Regions from separate parts of the Homo sapiens genome. Here region 2 is linked to region 1. The links come from fine-mapping of genetic effects on gene expression. A gene starts in region 1. The other region holds a variant in brackets. All regions are shown on one strand. Distances are between the middles of the regions. Region 1 holds the start of FCGRT (Fc gamma receptor and transporter). Region 2 overlaps FLT3LG (fms related receptor tyrosine kinase 3 ligand).

Region 1 (5,363 bases):
GAGAATGGCGTGAACCTGGGAGGCGCAGCTTGCAGTGAGCCGAGACTGCACCACTGCCCTCCAGCCTGGGCGACAGAGCAAGACTCTGTCTCAAAAAATAAAAAAAAGAAAAGAAAAGAAGAAAAGAAGAAGTTAAAGCAGGTTCTTTCTGTCTCTTAGGAGTGGACCTTGGGATGGGTGTCACTGGATCTCCCTTCTAGTAGGACACAGGGAGAATCAGGTAGGACACAGTAGGACACAGGCAGAATGAGAAAAATGAAGACATTCTGGACAAGGAGAACAGAGATTTACCTGGTTAATTTTATGTGTCAATTTGGCTGAGCCACAGTGAGTGAAGAGATATTCGGTCAACATTATTCTGGATGTCTCTATGAGGGTGTTTTAGGATGAGATTTACATATATATTTGTGAGACAGGGTCTTGCTGCTGCCCAGGCTGGAGTGCAGTGGCGCCATCACGGCTCACTGCAGCCTCCAACTCTTGGGCTCAAGGGGTCCCCCAGCTTCAGCCTCTTGAGTAGCTGGGACCACAAGTGCGCACCACCACACCCGGCTAATATTTTAATTTTTTGTAGAGATAAGCTCTCTCTGTTACTCAGGCTGGTCCTTGAACTCAAGCGATCCTCCTGCCTTGGCCTACCAAAGTGCTGGGATTACAGGCATGAGCCACTGTGCCCAGCTGAGATTTATGTTTAGATTGTTAGGCTTTGAGTAAAGGAGGTTCCCCTTCCTGAATTGAGGGAGGCTCATCCAACCACTTGAAACCCTGAATAGAAGAAAAGTCTCGGCTGGGTGCGGTGGCTCACGCCTATAATCCCAGCACTTTGGAAGGCTGAGGCGGGCAGATCACGAGGTCAAGAGATCGAGGCCATCCTGGCCAACATGGTGAAATCCCCGTCTCTACTAAAAATACAAAAATTAACCGGGTGTGGTGGCAGGTGCCTGTAATCCCAGCTACTTGGGAGGCTGAGGCAGGAGAATCGCTTGAACCCGGGAGGCGGAGGTTGCAGTGAGCCAAGATCGGGCCATTGCGCTCCAGCCTGATGGCAGAGCGAGACTGCGTCTCAAAAAAAAAAAAAAGAAGAAAAGTCTGCCCAGAGGGAGAGGGAGTCCTGCTAGGCAATTGTGTCTCCCACCTGCTGGCTCCCCCATTAGACTTTGGGGTTTCTTTCTTTCTTTCTTTCTTTTTTTTGAGATGGAGTCTTGCTCTGTCGCCCAGGCTGGAGGGCAGTGGCGGGATCTCAGCTCACTGCAAGCTCCGCCTCCCGGGTTCACGCCATTCTCTTGCCTCAGCCTCCTGAGTAACTGGGACTACAGGCGCCTGCCACCATGCCTCGCTAATTTTTTTATATTTTTAGTAGGGATGGGGTTTCACCATGACCTCGTGATCTGCCCGCCTTGGCCTCCCAAAGTGCTGGGATTACAGGCTTGAGCCACCGCGTCCAACATTTTTGAAATTTTTTTTAAAAATAGAGACAGGGTCTCCCTATGTTGGCCAGGTTGGTCTCAAACTCCTGGACTCAAGCGATCCTCCCAACTTGGCCTCCCAAAGTGCTGGGATGACAGGCATGCACCACCACACCTGGCCCCCGCATCAGACTCTGAACCAGCTGAACGTCCACTAATCCTGGAAGCCAATTCCTCAAATGAATCTCTTTCTGTGTATGCATATACACATTCTGTGGATTCTGTTTCTCTAGAGAACCTGAACTACCTGACCAGCAGTTCCACTCCCAGATGTATGCTCAATAGAGCTGAAAACAGGCCAGGCATGGGTGTCTTGCACCTGTCATCCCAGTGCTTTGGGAGGCCAAGGTGGGAGGCTGTCTTGAGCCCAGCAGTTTGAGACCAGCCTGGGAAACATAGCAAGACACTATCTCTGCAAAAATACAAAAATTAGCTGGGCCTGGTGGCAAGTGTGTGTAATTCCAGCTCCTTGAGAGGCTAAGGCAGGTGGAGTGCTTGAGCTTGGGAGGTTGAGGCTGCAGTGAGCCATGATCGCTCCACGGCATTCTAGCTTGAGTGACAGAGCCAGACCCTGTCAAAAAAAAGGAAAGGAAGGAAGGAAGGAAGGAAGGAAGGAAGGAAGGAAGGAAGGAAGGAAGGAGGCAAGGAAGGAAGGAGGCAAGGAAGGAAGGAAGGAAGGAGGCAAGGAAGGAAGGAAGGAAAGACTTCATATTATATGATTCAATTTCTTTGAAATGTGCAGAATAGGCAAATCTATCAAGACAGAAAGCAGATGAATGGTTGCCAGGGGTCTGGGAGCAGCGGCTGTTTAACGGGGACAGACCTTCTGTTTGGGGTGATAAAAAAGCTCTGGAACTCGGATAGAGGTGACAGTTGCACAGCACTGTAAATGTGTTAAATGACAGTAAGGGTAAATATTTTGAATATTTTACCACAATGAAATAAGTGTATGGGAAGCTTTGTAGCAGGAGTGTGGGCGGGGGCTGGTGCCTGGAGGGGCCTTCGAGTGAGGCAGCATTGTATGGGGACCATGTGGTCACTGAAGTCCTAGCAGAAGGATGTGGTTTTTTTTTTTTTTTGAGACGGAGTCTCGCTCTGTTGCCAGTCTGGAGTGCAGTGGTGCAATCTCGGCTCACTGCGACCTCCACCTCCCGGGTTCAAGCAATTCTCCTGTCTCAGCCTCCCGAGTAGCTGGGACCACAGGCCCACCACCACGCTCAGCTAATTTTTGTATTATTAGTAGAGACGGGGGTGTCACCATATTGGCCAGGCTGGTCTCGAACTCCTGACCTCGTGATCCGCCCGCCTTGGCCTCCCAAAGTGCTGGGATTACAGGCGTGAGTCACTGCGCCCGGCCCGCAGAAGGATATTAAAGAGCACCTGCAGGAATTTTTTAAGGGGATGCCGGGGGAAGGGCTTGAAGGAGGAACTAAGGAGGCTTCCAGAAGATTTTGATTAACAGCGAGCGCTAGGGAAGGCCACGGGGATACAGAGGGGTAGGAGGAGGATCCAGAGACCTCCAAGTTGTGGACTCCGGAGGCATCGAGTTCCTTTCCCAGTTTTGTCAAGAATTCCCTGAGCGGCAGACACCCTCAAAGTAAAAAACGGGAACCACAGAGAAGGAAAAAGAAGAACCACAAGCGTTTTGAGAAACAAACAGGCTGGGCCTAGGGCCTGGGGTGTGCCCTGCAACTGGGGGGTGGGGCTGGATGTTCTTGGAGTCAGGGAGCAGCAGCCTCCCACAGGATGTGAGAGAGGAACTGGGGTCTCCAGTCACGGGAGCCAGGAGCCGGCCAGGGCCGCAGGCAGGAAGGGAGCGAGGCTGAAGGGAACGTGAGCCGACCAGGGCCCGACTGAGGGAGGAGGGGCTGGGGGCCTGGAACCCTGGGTCTGAGGGAGGAGTGGCTGGGGGTCTCGACACTGGGTCTGAGGGAGGAGGGGTGGGGGCCTGGATTCCTGGGTCTGAGAGAGGAGGGACTGGGGGTCTGGACGCTGGGTCTGAGGGAGGAGGGAGGAGGGGCCGGGGGGGCCTGGACTCCTGGGTCCGAGGGAGGAGGGGTTGGGGGCCCGGACTCCTGGGTCCGAGGGTAGAGCGGTTGGGGGCCCGGACTCCTGGGTCCGAGGGTAGAGCGGTTGGGGGCCCGGACTCCTGGGTCCGAGGGAAGAGCGGTTGGGGGCCTGGACTCCGGGGTCTGAGGGAGGAGGGGCTGGGGCCTGAGGGGGGCGGAAGGGGCGTGGCGGAGCTCGGGGCCGGGACTCTCAGCCTATCAAGTGTCTGTAATTAATTAACCAACTGAGATCCAGTTCAGGGGTGAAAGTTCTTCAGGTACGAGGAGGGCATTGTTGTCAGTCTGGACCGAGCCCGCAGAGCCCCTCCTCGGCGTCCTGGTCCCGGCCGTGCCCGCGGTGTCCCGGGAGGAAGGGGCGGGCCGGGGGTCGGGAGGAGTCACGTGCCCCCTCCCGCCCCAGGTCGTCCTCTCAGCATGGGGGTCCCGCGGCCTCAGCCCTGGGCGCTGGGGCTCCTGCTCTTTCTCCTTCCTGGGAGCCTGGGCGCAGGTGAGGGCCGCTCCGGGCCAGGGCCCTGCTGCAGGCGGGCGGCGGGAGGCGGCCCCAGGCAGGCAGGGGCGAAGCCAGCGGGACCCGAGTTCCCCGCGAGCCCCTGGCGCTGCCTTCTCCGCTCAATTAACTTTCTCAACGTCTCCTGCTGGGCCTGAGGCTGGGAACCACCTGTCGCCTCTTGTGTCTGTTTCCCTCTCTCTCTCTGGGTCTCTGTCCCCCTCTCTTTCTGGGTCTCTTGTCTCTCTCTCTCTGGGTCTCTGTCCCCCCCCCCCCGGGTTTCTGTCCCCTCTCTCTGAATCTGTCCCCCTCCCTCCATAATAGATTCTTCTCCCTCCCTGGGTATCTGTCCCACTGCAGTCTAGTTCCCCGCCCGTGTGCTCCCTTCAGCTCTGTTTCTGTCTGCAGAAAGCCACCTCTCCCTCCTGTACCACCTTACCGCGGTGTCCTCGCCTGCCCCGGGGACTCCTGCCTTCTGGGTGTCCGGCTGGCTGGGCCCGCAGCAGTACCTGAGCTACAATAGCCTGCGGGGCGAGGCGGAGCCCTGTGGAGCTTGGGTCTGGGAAAACCAGGTGTCCTGGTATTGGGAGAAAGAGACCACAGATCTGAGGATCAAGGAGAAGCTCTTTCTGGAAGCTTTCAAAGCTTTGGGGGGAAAAGGTGAGATTCCGGTCTGGAGGGGCAAGGGGCCGGGTCCATGCTCCGGGGCCCCGCTTACCTGTGTTTGGGCGCCCCAGGTCCCTACACTCTGCAGGGCCTGCTGGGCTGTGAACTGGGCCCTGACAACACCTCGGTGCCCACCGCCAAGTTCGCCCTGAACGGCGAGGAGTTCATGAATTTCGACCTCAAGCAGGGCACCTGGGGTGGGGACTGGCCCGAGGCCCTGGCTATCAGTCAGCGGTGGCAGCAGCAGGACAAGGCGGCCAACAAGGAGCTCACCTTCCTGCTATTCTCCTGCCCGCACCGCCTGCGGGAGCACCTGGAGAGGGGCCGCGGAAACCTGGAGTGGAAGGGTGAGCCGGATCTGCAGCCGCAGGCTGTTCTGTCCTCTCTCCCGTCATGCCCACCTGCCTCAGTTCCCCTGCCAGGACCCTCCATCAGCCTCCCACTGCAGCCCACGCTCTGCCCCCCCATTCCTCAGGGGTCCTTCTACACTCAGCCCTCCCATGGCTCCCCAGCGCCCCCCAGGACAAACTCCTGGCTTCCTTCCTTGCCTTCTTTTTTTTTTTTTTTTTGTGAGACGGAGTTTCGCTCTTGTTGCCCAGGCTGGAGTGTAATGGCGCGATCTCGGCTCACCACAACCTCCGCCTCCCGGGTTCAAGTGATCTCCTGCCTCAGCCT
Region 2 (5,363 bases), 34 kb before region 1:
AGACCAGCAGAGTGGGGGAGATGGGGAGAGAGAGGGGTGGGGCAGAGGGGGATGCAAACTGGACAGCATTGGACCAGAGGCAGAGAGAAACCGGGAAAGACAGGCAGAGATGGGGCCATGTCTCCAGAAAGTGTGGAAGAGGCAGAAGGACACCCAGGGAAGGAGGAGCGGGGAAGACAGAACAGTACAGGTGGGAAGCCCGGAGGAGGGGGCTGTGTGTGGAACAGCAGAGGGCTCCCCCAGCACCCGCTCCCCTGCAGACCTATCTCCTCCTGCTGCTGCTGCTGAGCTCGGGACTCAGTGGGACCCAGGACTGCTCCTTCCAACACAGCCCCATCTCCTCCGACTTCGCTGTCAAAATCCGTGAGCTGGTGAGCGGCGCTGCCCCGGACCCCCTCATGTGATCCCCCTTCCCCCCACTTTTTTTTTTAAGTAGAGATGGGGTCTCTCTCCCTGTGTTTCCCAGGGTGGTCTTGAACTCCTGGGCTCAAGCGATCCTCCCACCTTGGCCTCCCAAAGTGCTGGAATTACAGGCGTGAGCCACTGTGCTTAGGGGTGTCATCCCTTTTTAAGGGCAAGGTTCTGTGGCTTCTTCTGGGCTCCCCCTCTCTTGGTCTTGTCCCTCTCTCTCTGGATCTCTGCTGCCACCTCTGGGTCCCCACAGTTCTGTTTCTCGCTGTTTTCAGCCAGGCCTGATCCTGTTTTCTCCCGCAGTCTGACTACCTGCTTCAAGATTACCCAGTCACCGTGGCCTCCAACCTGCAGGACGTAAGTCATGTTGGGAGGGACCTGGGATGGAGGTGGGGACCACAGACTCAAGATGCTCCACCGAGGCGAGTGGATAACCAGGCCCTCCCCTCCCCAAACCCAGGAATCAGAGTCCTCAGCCCCTCCTCCCTCAGACCCAGGAGCCCCGGCCCAGCCCCTCCTCCCTCAGACCCAGCAGCCCCGTGCCCAGCTCCTCCCTCAGACCCGTGGGTTCTCCCCTCTAGGAGGAGCTCTGCGGGGGCCTCTGGCGGCTGGTCCTGGCACAGCGCTGGATGGAGCGGCTCAAGACTGTCGCTGGGTCCAAGATGCAAGGCTTGCTGGAGCGCGTGAACACGGAGATACACTTTGTCACCAAATGTGCCTTTCAGGTCAGCCCTCAACTTAGGGGACAAGTGAGGGGAGGGAGATGCCTTCCTACGAATTAGAAGTAAAGCTCCACTAGGCCTTATTGGCGATTTGGACCATAGCCACCCAACGAAGGTAGAGCGAGAAGCGCCACCCTGCAGAGCCCTGTTCCTACAGAACAACACGTCCCCAGGCACCGGTGATGGGGAGCAGTCTGGTCCCATTCTGGGGCCCCGGTTTCCTAGGCCATGATGAAGGGTGCCACTGAGGGGTTCTTCCCCCAAAAAAAAACAGGGAGAGAAGGGGTCTCTAAACTGAGGAGGCCGGGCGTGGTGGCTCACTCCTGTAATCCTAGCACTTTGGGAGGCTGAGGTGGGCGGATCACTTGAGGTCAGGAGTTTGAGACCAGCCTGGCCAACATGATGAAATCCCGGCTGTACTAAAAATACAAAAATTAGCCGGGCATGGTGGCTCAGGAGGCTGAGGCACAGGAATCGCTTGAACCCGGGAGCCAGAGGCTGCAGTGAGCCGAGATCATGCCACTGCACTCCAGCCTGGGAGACAGAGTGAAACTGTCTCAAAAACAAAACAAACAAACAAAAACCTCTCTCTGAGGGCTGGGTGCAGTGGCTCACACCTGTAATCCCAGCACTTTCGGAGGCCAAGGTGGGAGGATTATTTGAGCCCAGGAGTTCAAGACCAGCCCGGGTAACACAGTGAAACCTCATCTCTGCACAAAAATAAAAATAAATTAGCCAGGCATGGTGGTGCCCACCTGTGGTCCCAGCTACTCAGAAGGCTGAGGTGGGAGGATCACTTGAGCCCTGGAGGTCGAGGCTGCGATGAGCTATGATTGGGCCACTGCACTCCAGCTTGAGCGACAGAGCAAGACCCTGTCTCAAAACATAGAATAGGCCGTGTATGGTGGCTCACGACTGTAATCCCAGCACTTTGGGAGGCTGAGGCGGGTGGATTGCCTGAGCTCAGGAGTTCGAGACCAGCCTCGGCAACGTGATGAAAACCATCTCTACTAAAATACAAAAACAAAATTAGCCAGGCATGGTGGTGGGCACCTGTAGTCCCAGCTACTTGGGAGACTGAGGCAGGAGAATTGCTTGAACCCAGGAGGCAGAGGTTGCAGTGAGCCGAGATCACACCACTGCCCTCCAGCCTGGGCGACAGAGCAAGACTCCATCTCCAAAAAAATAAAAATAAAATAAAAGCCTGGGTACAGTGGCTCACGCCTGTAATCCCAGCACTTTGGGAGCCCGAGGCGGGCAGATCACGAGGTCAGGAGTTTGAGACCACCCTGGCCAATGTGGTGAAACCCCGTCTCTACTAAAAATACAAAAATTAGCTGGGCATGGTGGCGCGCGCCTGTAGTCCCAGCTACTCAGGAGGCTGAGGCAGAATTCCTTGAACCCGGGAGGTAGAAGTTGCAGTAAGCCGAGATCGTGCCACTGTACTCCAGCCAGGGTGACAGAGCAAGACTCTGTCCCCAAAAAATAAATAAATAATAAAGTAACTTTGGGAGGCCGAGGCGGGCGAGTCACCTGAGGTCAGGAGTTCGAGACCAGCCTGGCCAACATAGAGAAACCCCGTTTCTACTAAAAAATATAAATAAATAAATAAATAAATAAATAGGCTGGGCACGGTGGCTCACGCCTGTAATCCCACACTTTGGGAGGCCGAGGCGGGCGGATCACAAGGTCAGGAGATCAAGACCATCCTGGCTAACACAATGAAACCCCATCTCTACTAAAAATACAAACAATTAGCCGGGCGTGGTGGCAGGCGCCTGTAGTCCCAACTACCTGGGAGGCTGAGGCAGGTGAATGGCGTGAAACCAGGAGGCGGAGCTTGCAGTGAGCCGAGATTGCGCCACTGTACTCCAGCCTGGGCAACAGAGCGAGACTCTGTCTTAAAAATAAATAAATAAATAAATATGGCCAAGCACGGTGGCTCATGCCTACAATCCCAGCACTTTGGGAGGCCAAGGTGGGCAGATCACCTGAGGTCAGGAGTTCGAGACCAGCCTGGCCAACATGGAGAAACCCCGTCTCTACTACAAATACAAAAAATAGCTGGGCATGGTGGTGGGCACCTATAGTCCCAACCACTGAGGAGGCTGAGGCAGGAGAATCACTTGAACCTGGGAGGCAGAGGTTGCATTTCACCACTCCAGCCTGGGCAACAGAGTGAGACTCTATCT[C/CA]AAAAAAAAATTAATTAATTAAATAAATAAACTCTGAGAGCCAGAGCTCACTGGGCCCTGTTGCTGGGCATCGCCAGCAGGGAAGGGCCTTTGGCCTGCGGAGGGGCGGTGGGGGGATGACGTGGTGGTGACGTCTCCCTCCCCTGCTCCCAGCCCCCCCCCAGCTGTCTTCGCTTCGTCCAGACCAACATCTCCCGCCTCCTGCAGGAGACCTCCGAGCAGCTGGTGGCGCTGAAGCCCTGGATCACTCGCCAGAACTTCTCCCGGTGCCTGGAGCTGCAGTGTCAGCCCGGTAAAGGCTTCCAGGCACCCCCACTCCTTCCCCTCCTGTCCTCACGGCCGCTCCTCCTCTCTGCACAGTGCATCCCAGACCCCATCTTTCTCATATTGGTTGTGACAAGGGCAAGCTTATTCCTCTTTCTGGAGCTCAGTTTACCAATTTTTTTTTTTTTTTTTTGAGACGGAGTCTCGCACTGTCGCCCAGGCTGGAGTGCAGTGGCGTGATCTTGGCTCACTGCAAGCTCCGCCTCTCGGGTTCATGCCATTCTCCTGCCTCAGCCTCCCAAGTAGCTGGGACCACAGGCGCCCGCCACCACACCCGGCTAATTTTTTGTATTTTTAGTAGAGACGGGGTTTTACCGAGTTAAACCAGGATGGTCTCGATCTCCTGACCTTGTGATCCACCTGCCTTGGCCTCCCAAAGTGCTGGGATTACAGGCGTGAGCCACAGTGCCCAGCCTACCTTTTTTTTTTTTTTTTTTTTTGAGATGGAGTCTTGCTCTGTCCCCCAGGCTGGAGTGCAGGGGTGCTATCTCGGCTCACTGCAAGCTCTGCCTCCTGGGTTCACGCCATTCTCTTGCCTCAGCCTCCCCAGCAGCTGGGACTACAGGCGCCTGCCACCTCACGCGGCTAATTTTTTTTTTTGTATTTTTAGTAGAGACGGTGTTTCACCGTGTCAGCCAGGATGGTCTCGATCTCCTGACCTCGTGATCTGCCCGCCTCGGCCTCCCAAAGTGCTAGGATTACAGATGTGAGCCACCGCGCCCAGCCTATTGTTTTTTTTTTCTAAGTCGGAGTCTTGCTCTGTCGCCCAGGCTGGAGTGCAGTGGCGCAATCTTGGCTCACTGCAACCTCCATCTCCAGGGTTCAAGCGAATCTTCTGCCTCAGCCTTCCGAGTACCTGGGATTACAGATGCGCATACCATGCCTGGCTAGTTTTTGTGTTTTTAGTAGAGATGGGTTTTCACCATGTTGGCCAGGCTGGTCTTGAACTCCTGACCTCAAGTGATCCACCCACCTTGGCCTCCCAAAGTGCTGGGATTATAGGCGTGAGCCACCGCGCTCAGCCTATTCACTCATTTAATTTGTGACAGTCTGATGAGGTAGGTACAATGATTATCCTAGTTTTACAGATGAGCAAACTGAGGCACAGAGAGGCCAAGCAGCCCATCCAAGGTCACACAGCCAGTGGCAGCCAGGCCTCTCTTTCCTTCCTTACCCCAGCCCTTCTCCTTGGTCACCCAGCCTCCTCTTTCTCCCCAGACTCCTCAACCCTGCCACCCCCATGGAGTCCCCGGCCCCTGGAGGCCACAGCCCCGACAGCCCCGCAGCCCCCTCTGCTCCTCCTACTGCTGCTGCCCGTGGGCCTCCTGCTGCTGGCCGCTGCCTGGTGCCTGCACTGGCAGAGGACGCGGCGGAGGACACCCCGCCCTGGGGAGCAGGTGAGCAGGCTGGGAAGAGGGGGTGAGGGGGCCGAGAGGGTGGCCCACTTGTGGCTGACACTTTGGGGCCCACAGGTGCCCCCCGTCCCCAGTCCCCAGGACCTGCTGCTTGTGGAGCACTGACCTGGCCAAGGCCTCATCCTGGTGAGTCCTTCCTGGGCTATGGGGCCTGGACTTTGTGTCTGCAGGTTGGGAGGGTCACTAGGAGGCCATGGAAGGGTGGTGAGCAGTGGAGGGGCAGGGGCAGCTCTAGGTGCAGAAAGACCCCTCTGGGGCCAGGCGCGGTGGCTCACGCCTGTAATCCCAGCACTTTGGGA

What was found. PIP is the estimated chance that this variant, and not a neighbour inherited with it, causes the effect.
Region 2: its variant is fine-mapped to the expression of FCGRT in whole blood (INTERVAL, PIP above 0.99).

Annotation. Positions count from the first base shown.
Region 1 is chr19:49,509,452-49,514,814 of GRCh38, forward strand. It overlaps FCGRT (Fc gamma receptor and transporter), which reads left to right and starts at 3,210. Exons shown (of 7, transcript NM_001136019.3): 1 at 3,210-3,299; 2 at 3,936-4,022; 3 at 4,431-4,682; 4 at 4,760-5,035. The coding sequence starts at 3,950. RefSeq lists enhancers at 2,230-2,792, 4,720-5,363.
Region 2 is chr19:49,475,431-49,480,793 of GRCh38, forward strand. It overlaps FLT3LG (fms related receptor tyrosine kinase 3 ligand), which reads left to right. Exons shown (of 9, transcript NM_001459.4): 3 at 261-371; 4 at 715-768; 5 at 993-1,136; 6 at 3,479-3,617; 7 at 4,868-5,046; 8 at 5,122-5,190. The coding sequence ends at 5,169. Among named protein-coding and RNA genes, the nearest start is that of FLT3LG, 3.9 kb to the left of the region's middle. RefSeq lists an enhancer at 562-741. The variant C/CA (reference allele first, on the strand shown) is at 3,326.